Linked DNA regions of Homo sapiens: regions 2 and 3 are each linked to region 1. Evidence: fine-mapped expression QTL. A gene starts in region 1. Each other region holds a variant in brackets. All regions are shown on one strand. Distances are between the middles of the regions.

Evidence for each region. PIP is the estimated chance that this variant, and not a neighbour inherited with it, causes the effect. A credible set is the group of variants that fine-mapping cannot tell apart.
Region 2: its variant is the best candidate, but not a certain one, in a credible set for the expression of TRIM9 in monocytes after triphosphate RNA (Kim-Hellmuth 2017, PIP 0.65).
Region 3: its variant is the best candidate, but not a certain one, in a credible set for the expression of TRIM9 in lung (GTEx, PIP 0.63).

What each region holds. Positions count from the first base shown.
Region 1 is chr14:51,091,257-51,098,647 of GRCh38, forward strand. TRIM9 (tripartite motif containing 9) reads right to left here and starts at 3,849. Exons shown (of 13, transcript NM_001387360.1): 1 at 2,862-3,849. The coding sequence starts at 3,683. RefSeq lists a silencer at 3,841-3,910.
Region 2 is chr14:51,804,606-51,811,996 of GRCh38, forward strand. LOC101927598 (a long non-coding RNA gene) reads left to right here. Exons shown (of 8, transcript XR_002957605.2): 3 at 4,016-5,675. Among named protein-coding and RNA genes, the nearest start is that of GNG2, 52 kb to the right of the region's middle. The variant C/T (reference allele first, on the strand shown) is at 3,535.
Region 3 is chr14:50,989,582-50,996,972 of GRCh38, forward strand. The region is part of intron 7 of TRIM9 (tripartite motif containing 9); the gene reads right to left. Among named protein-coding and RNA genes, the nearest start is that of PYGL, 49 kb to the left of the region's middle. The variant C/T (reference allele first, on the strand shown) is at 4,247.

The sequences.
Region 1 (7,391 bases):
CACTTTAAAAATAAACTGCAGCCATTTTATTATATCTTGAGTGTGTAAGATGATGATTTATGCCTGTGGGAAATACTTATCTGCAGGACTTGCTTTATCAGTAGAAATGACTAATATGATAGAATATGAATGACAACTTTTCAGGTCTAGTAATAACCTGTGTTGATAACTAACTGCCCAATTTTGGAAACCTAGTTAGTATAGTTCTTTGCTGTCCTATTTTTGCAGGGCATAGAAATTCTGGCCCATGGGCTTTTGTGGAGATAGAAGTACCATTAACTAAAACATAAACTATATGAGAAAACTGGCTGCTAACACATTAACTTCCTTATTAAGTAAATAAGGTGGGGGAGTAATGTTTGTTGTTCATCTAACAGATGACAAGTGAATGTTAAAATCTGTCATCCTTCTGTCTTATTTTTTTTCTTGGCAGTTTAGTAATCCTCATATTGACTGAACAAAAATTATGTGTCCTTACTGTTTTGGAAAAAATGTGCAAAAGATCAGAGAATAAATGGTCTTCTAGCCTACTTATGTCATGTTTCAAGGGTTTTAACATTCTTTTGTGGCAGGTAGATATCTAAATCTCAACCCAGGCAGCACCAGTGTCTGTCTACTCATAATTTCTATTGCCAATAAAACAAATGATTTAACATTTCAAATTGACATGGGGCTTGACAGAGATTTAAAGGTTTCTTTTGGTCTTAATAGATCAAGGATAGGCTTGTCATAAAAAAAATAATAATGTTGTGGTTTACCCATCCTAATTACCTTGTGGCTCTAAATTCTTTTTCCTGACAGAGTGATTAATTTTTTAGTTCCAAGGATACTTTGTAGGGCAATTCAACATGGACTATAATTAGCAGTTTAAAAGTGAAATCAAAATATGAATAAAAAACTAGCTGTGAACTCAAGTTTTGAAAACTTTCAAAATTAAATGTCATTTTCAAAAATTTAAATTCGACTGTTCTGAAAACAGTGGTGTGTGCCCAGTTAGGCTTCAATTTGTGCTAAATGAAATCCCCATCAGTACTAATATGATTTAATAGGTTATATGTGAGAATAGAATGACTGTAAACATGGATCACATTCAACCGGGTTAAGGAGTTGAGAAAACTTTCACTGATTGCTGAAAATTAATGACATTTTTTTCTTGCTGTAAACAAAATATCAATGTTCCAGCCTTAACTCCACAGTTGGCCACTTGCAAAAGCTACCCTTTCTAGTCTCCAAGGAATTCTGGGAGACTCTGAGCAAGGCCACAGCTGAGGCCTGGACACTATCTTCACTGCTCCATCTCATCCTTGGGTATGCAACTCAGTGATGTAAAGAAAAGCTCCTTCCAACCATCCTGAATCCCTGCCCTGCACTCCACAGCCCCAACTAAATGGATCATTTAAAAAATGAAAAGCAAATTCATGCACATCTCCTCAAGAGTTGCTCCCTTCCTTCTAAGCAGTGTGGGCATATTATAAGGATCTTCTTCCTCATGAGGCTTATTTCGTTTATGTCTGTGTGTGTACAGGGAGCAATAGATAAATACAAAAAATAACATAATTAAAATATATAGCATGCCACACAGGGATAAATACTACTGAGGAAAATAAAGCTGAGAGGGAACTAGCGGGTGTCTGGGTGGGTGGCGCTGCAAAGATGATACCTGAGCAAAGAGCTGAAGGATGCAGGTAAGTGACCCATTCGGATCTCAGGTAACTGGGGAAGAGAGCTTCAGGCTGAATGAACACCAAATGCAAAGGCCCTGGAGTAGGGAGGTGCCTGGCGTCGTTTGAGGAACAGTAAGAAGCAGTGTGGCTGGAGCAGAGGGAGTAAGTGGGAGGCAATGAGGTCGAAGGGGCCAAAATGGAAGAGGTCATGTAGGACAGGCTGAGAAGCGTGGGAAAAATTGGAGGGTTTTGAGCAGAGGAGTGGCACGACAGAATATGTTGCTAAAGCCTCTTCGTGTCTAGCCATGGTGGAAATATCATCAAAAGAGACTGGAAAGATAAATCTGGTAACAGGTGTCCCAAAGTTTGCACATATAACTACTGAAAGAGGAAAGGGCTTGAATTCCGGAGAAGTGGGTGTGTGTATAGTTGGGAGGAGAAGGTTTCCCTAGGAGATGCACCTGTCTGGCTTCCAGGCCGCGACTGCGCAAACTCCGGTCCTGACACTCTAGTCTCAGGTCCCAACTCCGGAAGGGTTCAGGCCCAAGCCTGCACGTCGCGTTGCCATGGCGACCGCTGGCTGCCCTCTCCGCTCTGTCTTTTGAGCACGTGGCACCAGGACCCCGCGTTCTCTCCAGCTCGAGAGCCAGGTCTGGCCCAGAGCCGGGCTCATCAGTATTCCGCCTGCGGCGTCTCCCCGACCCTCCGCCGTGCCTCACCAGGTCCGCCTATCCAGCAGCGACAGACTCCCGCCGTCCGCGCGACCCCACCGCCCCCATCCCAGTCCCTCCCCGAGGGTTCGCAGCCCGCCCTGCCCTCGAGCGTGCCTAGCGGCCCTGGGCACTGGCGCGGCTCTACCCAGCTATGCAGTGCTTTCCCACACACTGGCCGCGGCCACTGGCTGCAGACCCGCCGCGGAAAGGGGGCGCCCTGAGTCCCGCTCGCAGGCAGCGCGCCCCGAGAGACCCGCTCTAAGGCATCCCCGCAACAACTCTGTGGGGGCATTCAACTCCCCCGTGCGCCGGTTAAGATTCCCCCATGCCTCCTGCAATGCACCAGACCAGGGAGGTAAACATCGAAGGCACCTGCATTGCGCCCCCACTGGGATGCGCTGTGCGCAAGAGACGGGGACCGTCTGCTGCAAAACCGGATGATCGGAGACGCAGGGAGTTAGGAGTGGGTTTTCTTAGGACTCACCTTATGTAGTTTCCACATGGCCCCCAGAGCCTTGACTTCGTGGCTGGAGTGTTTGCCCTCCTCCAAGCACTGGTAGCACACGGGCATCTTGCATTGCACGCAGTACATGCTGTGGTTCTCCAGCTCGTGGTCTGTGCAGGTGGAGACCTTGCGTGGGCTCAGCCTCCGGCTCACACGACCCTGGGCCGGGGGCACCAGGCGGTGCTTGGCTAGGGGCCCCCGGGGCGGGTGGCAGCGCAGGCGGCACGGATCGCAGTAGAAGACATCGCACTGTTCGCACATGACGGTGGCTTCCTTGGGCGCCTTCTCGCAGAGCTGGCACTTGAGGGCCGCGGCTTTGCTCTGCTGGTAGCGGTCAATTACCCCTTCCAGTACGCGATTCTTGGGGAAGCCGCGGAGCCCCCGGTCATCCAGGATGAGGCTGCGGTGACACTGGGGGCAGGTGATACAGGAGTTGCGGGGCACCGGGGCCAGGGCCGGTGACAAGTGGGTGGCCGGTGGCGGCATAGCCGGGGGAAACACGCGGACGCCGTTGGGGGACTTCTGGCACGGGGTAGTGGGGGCGCTGGCGAACCCCCCGTAGGAGCCATAGCCGCTGTCCGCCTCGCTGTATAGGCTCATCTTGTCCAGGTCCAGATAGTCATAGTCGGAGACCCCGGAGCCCGCGGCCCGATGGCTCTGGGGGGATTCAGACTCTGGGGTCTGCACCAGGATGTTGCGGGCGCACGCCTGACACAAATTGTGAGAGCAGGGCAGGATGATGGGCTCCCGATAGAAGGAGCCGCACACGGGGCATTTCAACTCCTCTTCCATCTCCTCCATGGGGACCGGTCTGGGAGGAGACAGCGACGGCTGCAGCGGGTGCCTGAGCTGGCGAGGTGGCCGACGGGCCCGTCTTGTCCAGCACCCTGGCCAGCGGCGGCGGCTGTGGTGGTGGTGCCTTCCCGCGCAGCACTGGCACGGACACCCAGAGAGGCGCTAGCTCTGTGAGCCGCAGCCGCGTAGCCGCCGCGCCGCGCGCCAGCCCGGACCGCCCCTACCTGCCCTCCTAGTCCCGCCCCGGCCCATGAGCAGCGGCCCATTGGGCGGGGGGCAAGAGATCGAAGCTCTCATTGGCCACCAGACCCGTCCGTCTCCTCGTCTCCGCAGGCCACAGGGGGTTCGGTAGAGTCTGAGGATAGGGCAGTCTTCGCTCGCGGCTGCAAGATCTCTGAAGGGGGCCGGCGTGCGGAGGCTAGGGGACCGGGAAGGAGGAGTTAGGCGGGATGATTCATCCTCGCCCGGCTTACTTCCGACCTCCGGTGCAGTCTCCCAGGAGCTGGGGGCGTGAGAAACCCCTCCCCGCAGCGAGTGGGCTGCCGGAGGGGGCTGGGGCTTCTCGCCAGCGTTTGCGTTTGGCTCCCAGCTCTGAGCTCCGCGCCCACCTACCGCGGGCGAGTGCTGCGCAGCACGGAGGACGCCCCTTCTCTTCCGCTGCTGGCAGCCTTCGCAGGCGTCTCACCCGGGCCTAGGCTTCTGCACGGCAGTGGGGCTTTTCTCCTTCTCCGTGAATCCGCTGACGCCGTGCCCTGGAGCTCCCCCATCCCGGGAGTCTGACGGCGCTGGCGCAAGCCCTGGCGACACTCTTGGCTTCTTTCATCCTGCGTCCCTCGTTTCCTAAAGAGCATGTATAAAGTCGATTTCCTAGTGTCGACATGAGATTCAACTGGGTAACCGATGGAAATGGTCAGCATTAGTCAGAATCTATGACCCCTTCGTTTCATGCTTTAAATTATAGCTCGGCCCAGAGGCCTCAGTGCCGTGGTGTGAACGTGCTTCCTTCCACGGATCCTTCTTCCTCCTCGCGGCCTCCCAAAGCACCTGGCTGAGCTTTTTCGAGGCCCGCTGGGCCTTTGGTTCGGTTGAGGCAAGAACAGTTTGTCTATTTCTGAGTGCCCGTAGTTTAGTAAAGCTCTGTAAATGAATCACTGTGTGACTGCGGAGTCTCAGTGTTTCACTCCAAACAGCATTATTCAACCCCACGTGCCCTGGGCATCTGCCATAGCTTACAGCATCGTGTGCCTTTCTGTTTCTTCCAACGAGGGGCATGGTGAGGCGGTGATTCTAGTGTTAGTCCCTGTACAAGGAGGGAGGGAGGGAGGGAAGAAGGGAAAGAGGGAGAGAGGGAGGAAGGAAGGGGGGGGGAAAGGAAAGGCGGAAGGAAGGGAAGAAAGGGAGGGAGGAAGAAGAAAAGGAAAGGAAAATCTTTGAGTCAAGTGACATTCTGAGGTAGTAACATTTGAAATAGTACATAGCCGGCTTTTGCTGAATGATTCATGAAGTAAAGGACAAAAACTCTTTGCAAGTTCTAGAAATATTCCAATTTTCCACCTTCCAGACAGGAGATAACTTGATTATATGCAGCTATGTTGATAATTTAAAAGTACTTTATTGTCCAGAAAAAAAATGGACATTTTATTACACTGCCCTTGTAGAAATTGTCCAATAAACTAGGTTATCTTTTCAACATCTTTAGTTGCAGTGAGAACAGTAGTTGATCATTGTGTGGGGGAATAAAGTCCCCATTGTTATTTAAAGCCATGTTAATCATAAATGTGACGTGATTTATTTTTAAGCTGGCTTTCAACTAGTTGAGACCAGAGCATCCAAAGGTATATGCACTCTGTTTACAGACATAGATAAAATTTCTTCAGGTATGGTTGGGACATTAGCTGCACTTGCAGGATACACTTAATTTATAGGTCCCAAGAGAAATTACTAATAATTATATTCAATATAGTATTAATTGAATTGTAATGAAAGTTAATTATTGAGAAAATATTAGAAAGGAGTGTCCTTTTATGGCTTTTGTATGCATTTGACCACAAGTCACAATATCTTGGACCAGCAAGGTGAGCAGCTGTTACACTTTGTATGAGTTTGAACTCTGCTTATAATAGTATATCATCTAAGAGATCTTATTAGCAGAAAGTTTATGCTTAGTTCAAAGTAAAGAAGAATTTTAGAGGATGTCTCATGGTGTAATGCAGTGTTGGGTTCGCAAAAAGAACAACACAGGTTTATAATATAGTCAATATAGAAAGATTTGGTCTATTATGAAGTCGCTTGAGATGATTTCATTGTTAGATCTGTTTGTTTAGGAATTAGCTAAATCAGTCAATCCTAGGAGAGCTCTTAAAATGACTCATTTGTTGAGAGTTCACCCTGTTCCAAACAGGGGATTTATTTATTTGTATACATTACTTGGTTAAATCCCTGTAATTACAAGAAGAGGTAGGCACAATTATTCCCATTTTACAGATAAATAAACTGAAGATAAGCAAAGACACTTAAGTACTCAAGGTCAAATATGGTGAGGCTGGGATTGGAACCCGGACACATATAAGTTTGTTCCTTTGTTCATTCATTCATTCATTCATTCATTCAACAAGTGCTGAGTTCTACTCTCTTCAAGCTCTGAATGTGATAAGTACCCAAAATGTTCTTTGTTAACTTCTATGATATTCTGCTCACCTTCTCTGAAAGTTTACTTTTTTTTTCCTTTTTTTTTTTTGAGACTGGAGTCTTGCTGTGTTCCCCAGGCTGGAGTGCAGTGGCACAATCTTGGCCCACTGCAACCTCCACCTCCCAGGTTTAAGTGTTTCTCGTGCCTCAGCCTCCTGAGTAGTTGGGACTACAGGTGTGCACCACCATGCCTGGCTAATTTTTACATTTTTTTTTTTTAGTAGAGACAGGGTTTCACTATGTTGGCCAGACTGGTCTCAAACTCCTGACCTCAAGTGATCCACCTGCCTCAGCCTCCCGAAGTGCTGGGATTACACGCATGAGCCAGCGCTCCCAGCCAAAAGTTTACTATTTTTCTTTGAATCCATTTCTTTAAAATATTCTTGAAGGCCTTTGAAGATTTTCCCCTCATGTTGCACTGTTTGGCCATAATGTGCTTTATAGCCCCCCAATGACTTATGTTTAAAAGGGAATAAAAATTGAAATGTAATTGGTAATATTATAGAAATATTATACTATTGAGGGGATATCTTCTGTCTTCCAGCTGGTGATCAGTCCATGCCCTGAAGCACAAGGATTGATAGCCCTGTAATTTCATCATTCCTGGGATGATTGCAGATGTTCTCTTTTGTGTAAAGTGCCTAATTATCCTTTGAAACTTACTATTCACCCAAATTATGTTCTTTAGCAATGAGAGCAATTACATTTAAAGTGCAACAACAGCTTTTGCATTTTTAAAAAAAGATAAATGTTTTTCTTTTTTTGATAAATGTTTTTCAATGAAAAATTGAGTTGCTTTCCTATTTGCTTTTGACTACAATGCTTGATTATTAACAAAACAGTCTCTGTGAGTCTAAAGAATGAACACAGAGAAGAAAGGTTTTTCTTTCCACATTCTCTCCTAGAGTAGTCTATCCTTAGTTGTGGGAGGGGGGTGGAAATCAGTGAAAGGAGCTGATCTTAGGCTCTAACATTTTAAGATTATCTGACATGTATATAAAAATATTTTATTAAGGTATTTGAATA
Region 2 (7,391 bases), 710 kb after region 1:
AAAGCAAAGACACTCACAGAGCTTCCAAAAATAGATCCTGCCCCAGAAGAATTTCATAAGACTTCGAAGAGTAGTACCTTATCAAAGCTTTGCAGGTTAACGTTTTAAAAATTGGATAATACCAACTGTTGGAGAAGTTATATGAGAGCAACTGGAACTCTCCTACATAGCTGGTAGAAATAGAAATTGATATAGACATTTTAGAAACGTTTGGCGGTATTTACTGAAGCTAAACATATGCCTTCCTTATGGCTCAGCAGTTCCACTCCTAGAATTGAGTGGATATGACATGTGCAAGATTGTTCACAGAAGCTTTATTTATAATAACCAAAAAATGGGAAAATCCAAATGTCCATCAATAGTAGAATGAATAAATTGTTGTATATGCATTTGATAAAATATTACACAGTATTTATTATATATTTATATATAATATAAAAGTACAAACTACTTATAAATTGTAAAAAATCCTTGTAAAATTCATCAAGCTTTACACGTAAGACTAGGGCACTTTACCAGATATATGTCATATCTCAATAAAAAGTAAAAATCAAACAGGAAAAAAAAATGACAGGAATGTGCATCCAGAGTTGAAGAGCCTTGTTCAAGAGCCTCCAGCCTCAAAAGGGCATTTAACAATAGGTCACGCTCTGCTTGGTTTATAGAACGTACCTTGTCCCTCTTATTTCCCTGAAGTCCTTCTTTCAATGGGACGCCATGAAGACTGGCCTTCCTGTGTCATTCGTGCCCCCCAGCCTGGGGGCAATGGGAAGGAGTGAATTAAATGCTCTAAATATTAAACTACTTGTAAACTTCCATTTTTGCTTATAAGAATGTCTTATGCAATGATACCACTGGAAAAGATAAATCCAAAATTTATCTGTGTATCTTCCTTTCCTGTGATATTTTCTAAACTGTAATATGGATGATATGTTGCTTTTTTCTCATATTGTACAGTGAAGAAGCTCCTTGGCATCCTAGGCTGAAAGTGAAATTCATTTTAAAATATCTCTCCTGCCTTCAAATGATGGTCACAGCTATCTGACTGGGAAGCCAATTACATTACAGCCCCCACTCCAGCACATCTTAATAGAGTGCTATACCTCAGCAGGGAACAAAAGTGCGGCTGCCCCTCCTGGCCCAAGGCTGGCAGAGGCTTCTCAGCCCTGCCCAATGCCAGTATCTGAAATAAAAACAAGTAGTTAAATCTTCCCTTCAGATTGAAGATTCCCATCCAGTTCCTAGAATGAATTAAAATCCCATTCAAGATTGACATTATAAAATTCTTAAGATTTCCACTATTTACGGTTGGAGCCTTCTTTTTCCAGTAGTGGGTTTATCTCTAACCCTAGAAAATACCCTTCTCTTTATTTTGACAATAATCATCACAAGCTACTCTGTGCAAAGCAAGATTTCAAAGCAAGTTAAGGTCCAGCTTTTATCCTAATGAGATTTATCAGGGACGTATGACATCTGCAAAAGGAAACATATTATGGTACAAACTATATCAAGATTTTTTTTAAGGGAGTTCAAACAACGTGGCCTGAGGGTTCAGAGTGGCTGAGATCACTTCCAATTAGGAGGAAATAACCAGAACCCCCCCTTGCCAGTCTCTGCCCATGCCATATTTACATAAAGAGCAGTTAGAGGGCAAGAATGATGGAAAAGCAATTGAAACCCTACTGGATCCTCTGGGAGAATGTCAAAGGAAATACAAGAGATTGGCTGCAGCAAATCCCATCCTCCTCCATTTCTCTCTATCTCCCACACACTCTGGATAGAGAGTGGGAGAGGCTGCGATGACCCCAGGCTAATTAGTCTTGTCCTGTAACAGATGGCTTAGATCAGCCTCTACTGTAAACCTCTGATGTTGTTCCTCCCCCTTTCTCTCCATTCACCAAAACAATAAAAACTCTAAGATCTGGAGCTTAGAGTGTACTGATGATGTGATTAGTCTGAGTATTTTATCTTCATTTAATTTTCATCGCCGCCCTCTGAGCTGGATTTAACTCATGTACAAGCTATAGATGAAGAAACCAAAGCATAGAGGAGTCAAGTAGCTTGCCAGATTCTCACAGCTGGTATATGGTAGGCCCAGAACCTTATCCTGGACTCCAAGCCCATGCTGAGATTGTTAAGTGTGAGCTCCATGGAACCTTCCTCCAGAAACAGGGCTCTGGACTACAAAGACAGCCCTCCAGACTGTAGCTGTCCAGGGCCCTGGGGCTGAAGAAAGACTTGCATGACCACAGGAGCTCACACTTACAATCCATACTCTCACTTAGCCTCAAAGTATTTGATGGTAGTATGTTGTCTTTGATTTTTATTTGTATCTATTCATGTCTGTGTGCCTGCCATCTCCGCACCATCATAAGCTGTTGAGGACAGAGACTATGACTTCCAGGACCCACTAGGAATCTGATATTGTCAGGCTGCCTTGACAAGAGTATGGGTTCAATAAACACCTGATTCCCTTTCCCATATTCCCTTTTGCTCCCAGTGCCTAGCACATACTTGGTACTCCAAAAATATTACATGAATCGAAGACAGTAAGGACACAAATGTATTTCAGAATTTTAGGCATAAGTTCTACATACCACTTTCATTTCTGTAACTATATTTTGTATATTTCATGCTACAAAACAAATAATAAATAATGGCAGGAAGGCTTATTACAGAACTATCAGATGAGTTATGGCAGACTAATAGCAATCTTGCCCCAAAGCATCATCTGATCTAATGCATTAGTATGATTACTCTCAGCCTTTGAGTGAATTTAAATCATGCTTTTCTTTCTCTCTGTTAGTAAGAGCAATGATTAACCTGTTCATGAAACAAAACAAATGGAACTGGAAAAATAAGACTCACAAGCCACAGAATATATGACTAATGATCAGAGGGAGAGAGGCTAGCAATATCCGCAGAGGTCTGCCCTCAGCTCACAATTCATTCCCTTAGCTCATCCCCACTTGCCCTCACTCGGGGATCTGTGCTCCGTCACGTGTAGCAGGAGCTGCTGGGTCTCCTGCCCAGACTCTGCTGCTGTAAATCATTGCTCCTCAGAGCTGAGTGTTGCATGCCAAGATTGGAATTGCTAGTATCCAGAATCCTGCGGACAAGCTTCTGCCGTAGACTTCTCCTTTGGATCTGAAAAGTGCCCTTGTAAAAAGGGAATTTCAGTATTGGGAGTCCAAGGTTTGATAAGATGAGGGTTGCAACATGACTAGGTAAATGGAACCTCAGATGACTGTGAGATTACCTTACAGGGCATGGGTTGTGCGTTTCCACCTTACAGAAACAGGGGTTCTATGATAGGAGGAGCACTTCAGAAGCTGAAGAAGCACTTAGACACCCTCCCCTGAAATATTTCTCATTAATCAATTAAATCAAGGCATTTTGGTGCAACGGTGACTCCTTAGGGATTATGTATATATTACTTCTAATCTCCCCTGCCCTGGAGCTTAAACCCTAGGCCTCACCTGACTTCTTTGTGTTTTGCACCAAACTGAGAGCTAGAGCCACCAAATACTACTA[C/T]TAATTAACATTTATGAAGCACTTACTAAAGCCAGACACTGTTCCAGACCTTTGTATTAGCTTATTTAATTCTCACAACAACTCTCTAAGGTAGGATTTATATTTCCCTGTAATTTATGGTTGAACAAATGGAAGCACAAAGAAGTTTGGTAACTTGCTCAAGCTCAAAGAGTAGGTAAGAGTTGAGATTCAAACCTAGATAAGGGTAGCCCTGGAGCCCACTCTTTAAACTCTGTAATATGGCTATGCTAAGAAAGAACAGTAGGTAGAGATGTCAGAAGAGTCAGAGGCAGAGGTATGTAGAGGGAGAGGGAGAAGATTGCCACAGCTTCCCGTTGCCACTCCTCGCTTCCAAAGATGGAGTCCATATGGGCTGGCTCCGTGACTTGCTTTGACCAATAGAATGTGGCAGAAGTGACATTGTATATGTTAGAGGCCTAAGCTTTAAGAAGTACAATAGCTTCTGCTTTTTCCCTTTTAGAAACCAAGGATAAGAACATTAAGATTATCCTGCTGGAGAGAGAGGCCATGCGGAAGAACCCTGGAAAATGAGACAGCTCACAGAGCAAGAGGCCATGTGGAGAAGGCCTAGAAGTAAAATGCCTCATGGAACAAGAGGCCACATGCAGAAGGCCTGGAGGATGAGACGCCCTGTGAAGTGAGAGGCCACGTGGAGAAGGCCTAGAGGAGGAGACACCTTATGGAGCAAGAGGCCGAATGGAGAAGCCCCAGAGGGTTAGACACCTTGTGGAGCAAGAGGTCACACGCAGAAGTCCTGGGAGTGAGATGCCTCACGAAGCGAGATGCCTCGTGAAGCGAGATGCCTCGTGGAGTGAGAGGCCATGTGGAAGAACCCTGGAACTCAGCGGCTGATAACACAAAGATCCCATGGTGTGAGAGAGGCCTTCATGAACTTCCCGTCCAGCCCAGCTAGAGCCAAATGGAGCCATATGTGTGACCGCAAGTGACATCTACAAAAGAACGACCCAGTCACCCTGAGAATTGTTAGAAATGCAAAGCACTAAGTTTTGGGGTAGTTTGTTACACAGCAATAGCTAACTGATACAGATGGTTTGAATTACTTGACTTTAAAGTTCCTTCTTACCCTGAAAGTTTATGGCTTAGTAAAGTGAATTAAGCACATTTGACTGAAACAGAGAGATGGTGTAGGAAAAGATCAGAAGGTAAGGGCAGGGCAAGGTGAGGAAGGCTTTCCGTGCCACGATAAGGAATTTGAGCTTTAACTGGTAGGTTCTGAAGCTGTCCCAGGAGGAAGTGACATGAGAAGATAGTTTTTTAGGAAGACCCACACTGCAGCAGCATGTAGATCAGACACGTGGGCACACAGAGCAGATGTGAGAGAGAAGGAGGCATGGAGACCTGATTGCTGAGGCAAAAAGATGCAGCTGACAATTATGGAGCAACAAGCTACTGAATACAGAATTGAACATTCAGTCTTCAAGACACAGATGTAAGCTGCTTTCTCTGTATCAGCCTTCTCTGTATCAACTCTTCATTTTTTCCAACTATGATGTTTTTACTTTCAAAAATCCATGGGAGAATACATGGTATGTCGTTAAAAGCCTGGGATTTGAAATAAGAAAGCCTTAGCTTTAAACCCCTTCTCTCACCTTCTAGCTGTGTAACTCTGGGCAAGTTACTGAACCTTGCTGTATCGCAGCTTCTTCATTTGTAAAATGGATATAATGATATTTGTCTCACAGGAGTAATGCAAAGATAAAAACGGATTATGTCTCATGCATTTACTTTTACTAAATGGCTAAATGCTCAAGCAACACAAATACATGATTATTTCTCTTTCACGTAACAGTCCAGGTTGGGAGTGTCAGGTTGAGGGGTGGATCTTTTTCACATCTTCTTGAAAGAATTCGTGGTAAAAGCTGTCTTCAGTTTATGCCTTCCAAGGTTCTTTTGGCCATCGCCATTCCAGAAAGAAGAGGAGAAGAGAGCATGAAGGAGCCCGCCTAACATGTTTTATCTGGCTTCTCAGAAATGGCACATGCTTCTACTTGCATTCCATTGGCAAGAACACACGGCACACCAGCTGCCCACGGGGATAGGGAATCCCAGCTAGAATTCCATCCAATAGAAGACAGAGGGGAGAGAAGAGCAGGGTATTGGTAAGTGTCACAGAATTGCTAAACCAACCTGATTGCACATATCTACCACCAGACCACACACCATCCCAGTTCAATCATCACCCTTTGGGATCCAGCCTGGACATCACAATTTTTAAAATCTCCTGAAGTGACTCTAATGCGCAGCAAAGTTTAAGAACCACTGGCTTAAGCCACCATTACTTGGTTTTTCTATGGCTTGCAGCTGAAATCATTTCTAACTTATAGGTTTTCAGGGGAGGTGCTTCTCAGCCTTGCCTGAACATTAGAATCACCTGGAAAGGTTTAAAAACATTTCAAGCCTGGGCAGCAGGGTGAAACCACATCTCAACAAAAAATTTAAAAATTAGCCTGGTATGGTGGTGTGCCTGTAGTCCTAGCTACTTGGGAAGCCAAAGGGAGAGGATTGTTGAGACCAGGAGGTTGAGGCTGCGGTGAGCCATGATCACGCTACTGCAGTCCAGCCTGGGGGATAGAGCAAGTTCTTGCCTCAAAACAAACAAACACAAAACATTTTAGTGGCAGGCCATGCATGGTGGGCCAGTAATGTTGGTATTACTGCTGTAATTTCAGCACTTTGGCAGGCTAAGGTGGGAGGATTGGATGAGACCAAGAGTTCAAGACCAGCCTAGGGAACACAGTGAGACCCTCATCTCTTCAAAAAAAATTTTTTTAATTAGCAGACATGATATTTGGGAGGCTGATACAGGAGGATCAGCCAGAAGGTTGAGGCTGCAGTGAGCCGTGATCACACCACTGTACTCCAGCCTGGGCAACAGAGCAAGACCCAAGCCCTAAACAAACAAACAAACAAACTTCAATGCCCAGGCTGTACTCCAGACCAATCATATCAGAGTTTCTAGGGGTGGGACTCAAACATCTGTAGTTGTTAAAGCTTTCCAGGTGATTCTGATGTGCAGACAAGTTTAGGAACCACCGTGCTCAAAAAATGGTTACATTGTTGAGACTTACCTCCTGCACACCTCTCTGTCTTATGGGTTAAGACTGCACTTCTCAGCCTGGCACAGTGGCTCATGCCTGTAATCCCAACACTTTAGGGGACCAAGACAAGGGGATTCCTTTTGTTTGGGAGTTCAAGACTGGCCTAGACAACATATTCAGACCTCATCTCTACTAAAAATTTTAAAAATCAGCCAGGTGTGGTGGCACACACCTACAGTCCCAGCTACTCAGGAGGCTCAGGCAGGAGGATCTCTTGAGCCTGGGAGATAGAGGCTGCAGTGAGCCATGACCTCATGACAGAGCAAGACCCTGTCCAAAAAAAAAAAAAAAAAAAAAGAGACTGCACTTCTCAAACTGCAATGAGTATAGGAATTTTCTGGGGTCCTTGTTAAAACACAGACTCTGATTCAGTAGGTCTAGGGTGGCACCTGAGATTCTGCATTTCTAACAAGCTCCCAGGGGAAGCTGGCCTACTAATACATGGTCCACACTTTGAGTAGCAAGGGGTTAAGCTACCATAAGGAGTTCTGTAACTCTAAGTTACAATTTAGCAGTTAGTTACATGAATAAAAATGTTTGATAATCAGTGAGGAATATACTTTCTTGTTCTTTCCTTCAAGGGAACTATCATCCCATAAAAATGTAATAAATACTTGCATATTTCAAGCTGTCTAGAGGGCTGTTTCAAATTACCCCATGAGACATCTCAAAAAAGAAATAGTCCTCTCTCAGTACCCAAGGGGAATTGGTTCCAGG
Region 3 (7,391 bases), 100 kb before region 1:
TGAAGAGACGTTTAACATCACATCATATTTCATCACACGCAGGGATCCCGTGTGGTTGCAGAGCTTTGCTGAATGAAAGCAGTTTAGCAGGAAAGAGCAATGGAAAACAGTATGTCAATGGCCAAATGTGGTGACTCTAGGCATAACTATAACTCTAGGACGGGACTGTGTTCGTAACGAATACGTATCAAGATATGCTTTCCATCAACTCTGTCAATGACCATCATTTTCCTCTTGCTCTTTCCTGGACTTCTTTCCCTTCCTCACTAGGATTGGCTGGAGTCTGGAGTTAGGGTCTAGATAAGGGCAGAGACCTCTGCTTAAAAAAAGCAATCAAGAATCAACAAAGCAAAGATTGGCTGGGGACCACTTGTATTATTGACTGAGAATATCTAGGTGATGTACTCCTGTTTGGCCACCATATATTTCTTTTGTTTCTTTATTTCTTTTTTAGAGACAGGGTCTCACTTGGTCATCCAGGCTAGAGTGTAGTGGTGTTGATCATAGCTCACTGCAGCCTTGAACTCCTGGGCTCAAGGGATCCTCCTCCCTCAGCATCCTGAGTAGCTGGAACTACAGGTGCATACCACTGCACCTGGCCAATTTTAATTTTTTCTGTAGAGACAAGGTCTTTTTATGTTGCCCAGGCTGGTCTCAAACCACTGGCCTCAAGCAGTCCTCCCACCTCAGCCTCCCCAGTGTTGAGATTACAGGCATGAGCCATGGCACCCAGCCCATATATTTCTTTTATTTGTTCATTAGCCAACGCTATTGAACACCTGTCATGTGCCAGACATTGCAGTAGAATTGAGCCGTTGGGAAACATAAAGTTGGCAGGAGACTCAACCATAAGAAAAATAATAATTTAGAGAAAATCAGTGTCATATATTATTGATTGGTTTTTACACTTCTGGGGGTGGAATTTCTTGACTGACTCCAAGGACAGAGTACTAAAGATTTTTGCAGATGTTGTAGAATATTTGAAAAGGTAGCCTTTGGGGTGTTATTTTTGGAATCTAAAGAGGAAAAGCAAACAGATTGTGGTTGCTTATGATAGTGTATACTAATCCAGTGCCCTCTGTGTCCTGGTAGAAGTCTGGGTTGTCCTCCTGTCTGGCAGTGAACAACTTCATAACTTAAGCAGCCCTTGAACCCAGGTCCAATAAGATGGTTGTATTTTGGAGCACGGTAAGGCAAGACATGTCACGAAGAATTGTACAGTGTTAAAGATGAGTTTCAACTCAATTATAAACCAGCTGTAAAATAATTTGCTTTTGTTGGGAAGATTTTAAAAGAGACAAAGAAATGAATGAAGAATGAGGCTGTTTTCATAAATGGTCTTATAAGCAGCCAAAGTCACAATTATGTCCAACTGGTACATAATTTATAATAAAAGGTGGTATTTTAAGCTTTGTTAAGTGTGGCATTAATTGCAATTGAGAAGTGAGAAACAAATCTGTTTTGAAAACCTTCTTTTAGAAGAATGAAACAGCTTTTGCCACCCCAAGGACAGATGCATACTTCATCACCAAGTTCTCCACTCCAATTTAGAATACCATGGCATTATTTATAAGGAACTATCATCAGAGGAACTGAAAATTCCTGTATTTCAATTACATACAGAGGATTCCAAAGAATGAAACTGCTTTCCAGGGTATCAGTTGCAAAGCACACTTCCCAGAACCAAAAATAGGGTTCTGAATCTCAGTCCCATGGAAAAATGCAAGAAATTCCCTGGGATATCATGCATGTGTCAAAATTTAAAAGAACAAAGTATCTCTCTTTTCTGGGCTCTGAAACCTATCATTATGCCTCTCACCTTGGATTTTGTAAAATTTACCCAAATATGGTCAGGTATGATTACCTACCTTGAGAACTTTGTCCTGGAAATGCATATTCTTCTAACTATTTTTGGAGAGGCCCAGATGCTCTGGGTCAGGAAAAGCAGAGACAGAAAAACCATCTTTCAGTAGACCATATACATTTCCTTATATGATCCTTTATCAATCATTTTCTATTAGTGTTGAATTTTCAGTATCATAGGCATAACTTTAAGACTCATTATGACCCTTGGAGGAGGCAGGAGGTATCTAATGCTGCTTCATAGCATTTTCTGAAACAACTTTCAACAGCAGTTTTAGAGAGAGAAGCCACAAAGGTACTAATTGTAAAGACTCAGAGGTCCTCAGCTGTAAGTCCATGGTTTTAGAGATGAGAAAACTGAAGTCCAGAGAGGCTAAGGGACATATCCAAGTTACACCACAGCTGTGGAGGGATACAATAGAGACTCAGGTAGGATCAATTCCTGGAGGATAAAATTTTGGGGTGACAAGACTATTGCTGCTCCTTTGTAACCTAGAAATATACAAAAGGTAAAGCTTATGCCACTGGCCCCAGGGCACATTTCAGTGGTCTCAGTGGGGACCAAGGTTTGTGTAGAGGACCTAATAAACCCTAACTGTGTTAAGGATACATCTTTTCTTCTTTAAATAGAGTGTTTAGTTTATGTAGTGGTTAGGGATTGGAAAGGCACACACATCACTGTCCTCCTTGGAATTTTGGCTAGAGGGATTAGATGGGCTGAGGTGTTCCCTGTAGTTGTTCTTCTGACAGGTTCTTTGTTCCTCACAAGGTGACAGCATTTCTGGAGGTCTCAGCACATCAGGGTGCAGTACTTATGCTGGACCAAAATCACTATTAAATATGAGCAAAGGAGCTGGGCACGGTGGCTCATGCCTGTAATCCCAGCACTTTGGGAGGTCAAGGCATGAGGATCGCTTGAGGCCGGGAGTTTGAGACCGGGCTGGGCAACATAGTGAGACCCTGTCTCTACGGAAAAAAAAAAAAGCCAGGTGTGGTGGCATGCCTATAGAGCCAGTTACTAGGGAGGCTGAGGCAGGAGGATCACTTGAGCCCAGGAGGTCAAGGTTACAGTGAGCCACGATCGTGACACTGCACTCCAGCTAGGTGACAGAGTGAGACTCTGTCTCTGGAAAGATAAATGAATGAATGAATGAATGAATAAATAAATAAGTAATTGCAAAAAGATTCTGGACAGATGCATCTGAGGCCAATTTGCATTCAGACAAATGGAAGCATAAGTTTATATTTTGTCTGCACCATTACATCTTTTCTGGGTGGTTTCCTTCAATGCACAGAAGAAGGAGCTACTACAATGAAAGGGGCAGCGTGATGCTGAGAGTCTAATCGGGGAGAAAGACATTTTAATCTTTATGAGTAACATTGTCTAGGCCCACTTTTTAGAAAGCAGTTTTTAAGATGTAGTTTCAAGAATCCCAACCTATTTGTCATTAGATAAAACAATCCTGAAAAATGCTGGGTAGATGGCTTGAGAGCCAGCCCTCTTTTCTCTAATTATCACTGACTACCTTCTCCCCATTTTCCCTCCCAGTTAGGACAGGCAGGGCTGGAAAGCTTCTGTGAATAAATGGCTCTGTGATGTCAACCCAAGCAGGGCTCTGAGTGCCAGACCTCATTTGGTAGTAACTTTCATTTGGTAGTATCAGAGCCTCAGAGATGTAGCTCTGATATTCCTTTTCCTTCCCGGGCAAATCTCGTCACTGCCAGCCAAGAGTATCCACTGGTACCAGTGGGGGAAGGGCCTCTCTAGGTGACCTGCTCACCTGGGATGGGAGGGAGCTGGAGGAAATTTCTGCAAAGACATGAAAATGAGCACAGGACCTGATAAAGAGTTTGGATATTATGCTGGAAATGATGGCCACTCCCACATCTTCTTAAAGCTGGAACGCTACTCTTTTCAACAAGACTCTTTTTTTTTTTTTTGAGATGGAGTTTCACTTTTGTTGCCCAGGCTGGAGTGGAATGGTGCAATCTCAGCTCACCGCAACCTCTGCCTCCCAGGTTCAAGTGATTCTCCTGCCTCAGCCTCCCAAGTAGCTGGGATTACAGGCGCCCGCCACCACACCCAGCTAATTTTGTATTTTTAGTAGAGACAGGGTTTCTCCATGTTGGTCAGGCTGGTCTCGAACTCTTGACCTCAGGAGATCTGCCCAACATGACTGCAAGTAGTAAAGTCCTCCTTCTGGCTGGGATTTCTGGATGAGCATATGAGGCAGCTACACAGCGCTGCTTCATTTTGACAAGGTGTTTTCAGTCACCTTGCAGACAGACTTTGGATAGTTTTCCCTCTCTTTCTTTCCATTTGGTTGAGGGCAAATAGCACTTTTCTAATGTTAGCACCACAGCGGACTGTGCTGAGCATTGG[C/T]GGCTTAAAGTCCTGGATCTGACATATTATTATACTTAACCTCTCAGCAGCTCAGTTTCCCATAAGTAGAGAAAGATGACAATAATAATACCTTCCTCATAAAGTATAGTACTAAGAATAATGGGCCATCTAAAAATGTCCACATCTGAATCCCCAGAACCTGTGAATATGTTATTATCCATGGCAAAAGGGACACTGCAGAGGTGATTACATTAAGGATCTTGAGATGGGGGGATTATACTGGATTATCCAGGTGGGCTCAAGGTAATCACAAGGATCCTTATCAAAGGCAGGTAGGGGCTACATGGTGGCTCATGCCTGTCATCCCAGTACTTTGGGAGGCCAAGGGAGGAGGATCACTTGAGGCCAGGAGTTTGAGACAAACCTGGGCAACACAGCAAGACCACATCTCTACAAAAAATTTAAAAAATTAGCCAGACATGGTGGCACATGCCTGTAGTCCTAACTACTCAGGAGGCTGAGGTGGGAGGATTCCTTGAGCCCAGGTGTAGGAGGCTGCAGTGAGCTATGATTGTGCCACTGCACTGCAGCCTGGGTGACAGAGTGTGACCTTGTCTCAAAAAAAAGGAAGGTAGAAAGGTCAGAAAGAGATTGGAAGATGCTACATGTCTGGCTTTGTAGCCACAAAGTCTATCTAAATAGACTAAATAGATAGACTTTGTCCTACAAAGTCAGATGTCTAGCCCCTACCTAAATAGACTTTGTAGGCAGAATCTACTTAGATAGGAAGAGGGAAACTAGAGAAAAATAAACAGAAAATGTCCTATCCTGTTCTCAGCCCTGTATGATTTTTTAAAACAGGAGTACAGCTTGTCTCACACATAGCATAAACCTTAGAACTCTGTGTATTAAGATGGCCTTGCTGTGTAATGTTTTCAACAGATACTCTTTTGCAGATGGTTTCAAAGACTGGCACAGCCATGATGGCTATTAGATGAATTAATTTAAAGATACCCATGACCAAGTTTTGGGGCTTGGGGGCCTTATTTGAAAATTTCATTAAAATTCTTAATTGCTTACAGTTATATTTCATCTTAAGTCAGTGTAATTTGGTTTAGATGTGCAACTGGCGTTTTTTCCATGGGTGTCTTTGATACATCTCCAGGAACTTTGCTTTCAGAGAACTATCCACACTTGGACTCATATAATAATGCATTCTCCTTTCCTTTTCTCTGTCTCTTTTTTTTAAGATGGGGTCTCACTATGTTGCCCAGGCAGGATTCAAACTCCTGGGCTCACAGGATCCTCCCGTCTCAACCTCCCAAGTATCTGGGATTACAGGCATGAGCTACGGCACCTGACTCCTTTCCTTTTCTCTTAATAGCATGTTCTTTATAATTTCCATTGAATTTAATTAATTTTTATTGCTTTCCTAATTCTCCTATAAAAATTTTATCTTCCTGCTAATCCCTTTTCCCTGTTTTTCAGTGTTTATCACAATGTGTAAAAATGGAACTATTTATATGTTTATTTCTCTAAGGCTTGTTTCCTTTTCTAGCTTGTAAACTCCAGGACAGTAGGGATAACGTCTGTTCAACACTCTATACCCACAGCCTAGCACACAGTGGTCACTTATCAAGCACTGCCCAATAAATAGACAGATAAATTTGCTTTCGAAGAAAAAACCAATCAAAATTTATAGTAATGTAGACATTTGATCTCCCCTGCATAACGTTACCTTTAGATCAGCAAAAGGTTTTGTGAAAGCTCACAGAGTACAAAAGATGAGCAATTTAAACCTCAGACTAAATGCATGTGATTACAAGTTAGACTTGTTACCGCATATGAAATTTTACCTTTCTGTGATACAGAATTTTTGTTTTGAAGTTTGAAAAGGGATTAACTCTTGCTAAGAAGAAGGTGAAAGATTTTGTTACACTAGAAAGCCAGAACGCACCACCCCACCACCCCCAATACCAGCAAAGAAAAAAAAAATCTCTAAAGCAAACCTTTCTGGAAACTGTAGGAAATAAGATTAATAAAGCATAAGTGCAGTGAATGTACCAAAACTCTGTTAATAGCATTTTTCTCACTGATTTCTAAAAAACAAACAAAAAAGAGATAATTATTTGATCCTATAGGCTTTGTCTATTGTTACAGATCGATCATATCTTTTTTTTTAAAATAAGCTATTCACTATATTTTTTCTTGCTTTCTAAATCTTGTCTCACTGAATGTATTAGAATGAGGGAGAAACAAATAGAACAAACCAAAGTTATGGAGAAAGTATGTGTGTGAACTTTATTTCATCATGAGAAAATTACTTCTGTGCAGTAACAGAGAATACTGATATCTATATGATGATAGGCTTTTCTTTGTATTCAGATACATACCTTATATTTGTACACAATATATAAAATTCATGGAGGAAATTAATTTCTACAGTACAGTTTCTTTGTTGGAAGAGAACTTGTTCCGTTTGTTTCATCTAGAAAATGACCCCCAGTTCTGTGACTGTGGTACCAAGGATCGCAGTTCCAATCCTGTAATTTATTAAATTAGACACCATAATCTTATGAACATTAAAATAAACTGAGGCGCTACATCCTCCTGCAGGATGAAACGAGAGACATAAGTGCTCAGGCTGTTATGCTAATAACTGATTTTTACCAGAATAGTATGATTCCCATGATGTATTATGAATAGAAATAGTTTTCCCGCAGATCTGATAACACATATTAGCAACATTGCTACAAATTTCTCTCTGCTCTGCAGGCATGCACTTCACTCTTCAATCAAACCACCTTGTACACACATGGGAAATGAGGCCATCACCAGCAAGGGCCTTCTGCGTTGCATCTAGGAAAGACTCTTGGAGGGCTTTAGCAGTTAGTATGGTATTTTGAGAAAAGAGGCAACTGCTCTCAAACTGATAGGTCATCCCTGAGAGAAGGTGCTAAAATGATAATTCTGGGGGAAGCTGTAGCTACCACATCACTGTACTCCAAATGGGAACAGGTCATGTGGGCATTTTCCCTCAGCATATCCTTCTCTTGGAATAGCATCACTTAGACTGACAACTGCTCCCCAAAGCACTGTTTTCACGGCTAGGGGCCTTTCATCCTTGCTGTAGGATTCAAAATTGTGCTTGTTTTTAACCATGTGAAGCATTTTAGGGTGACTG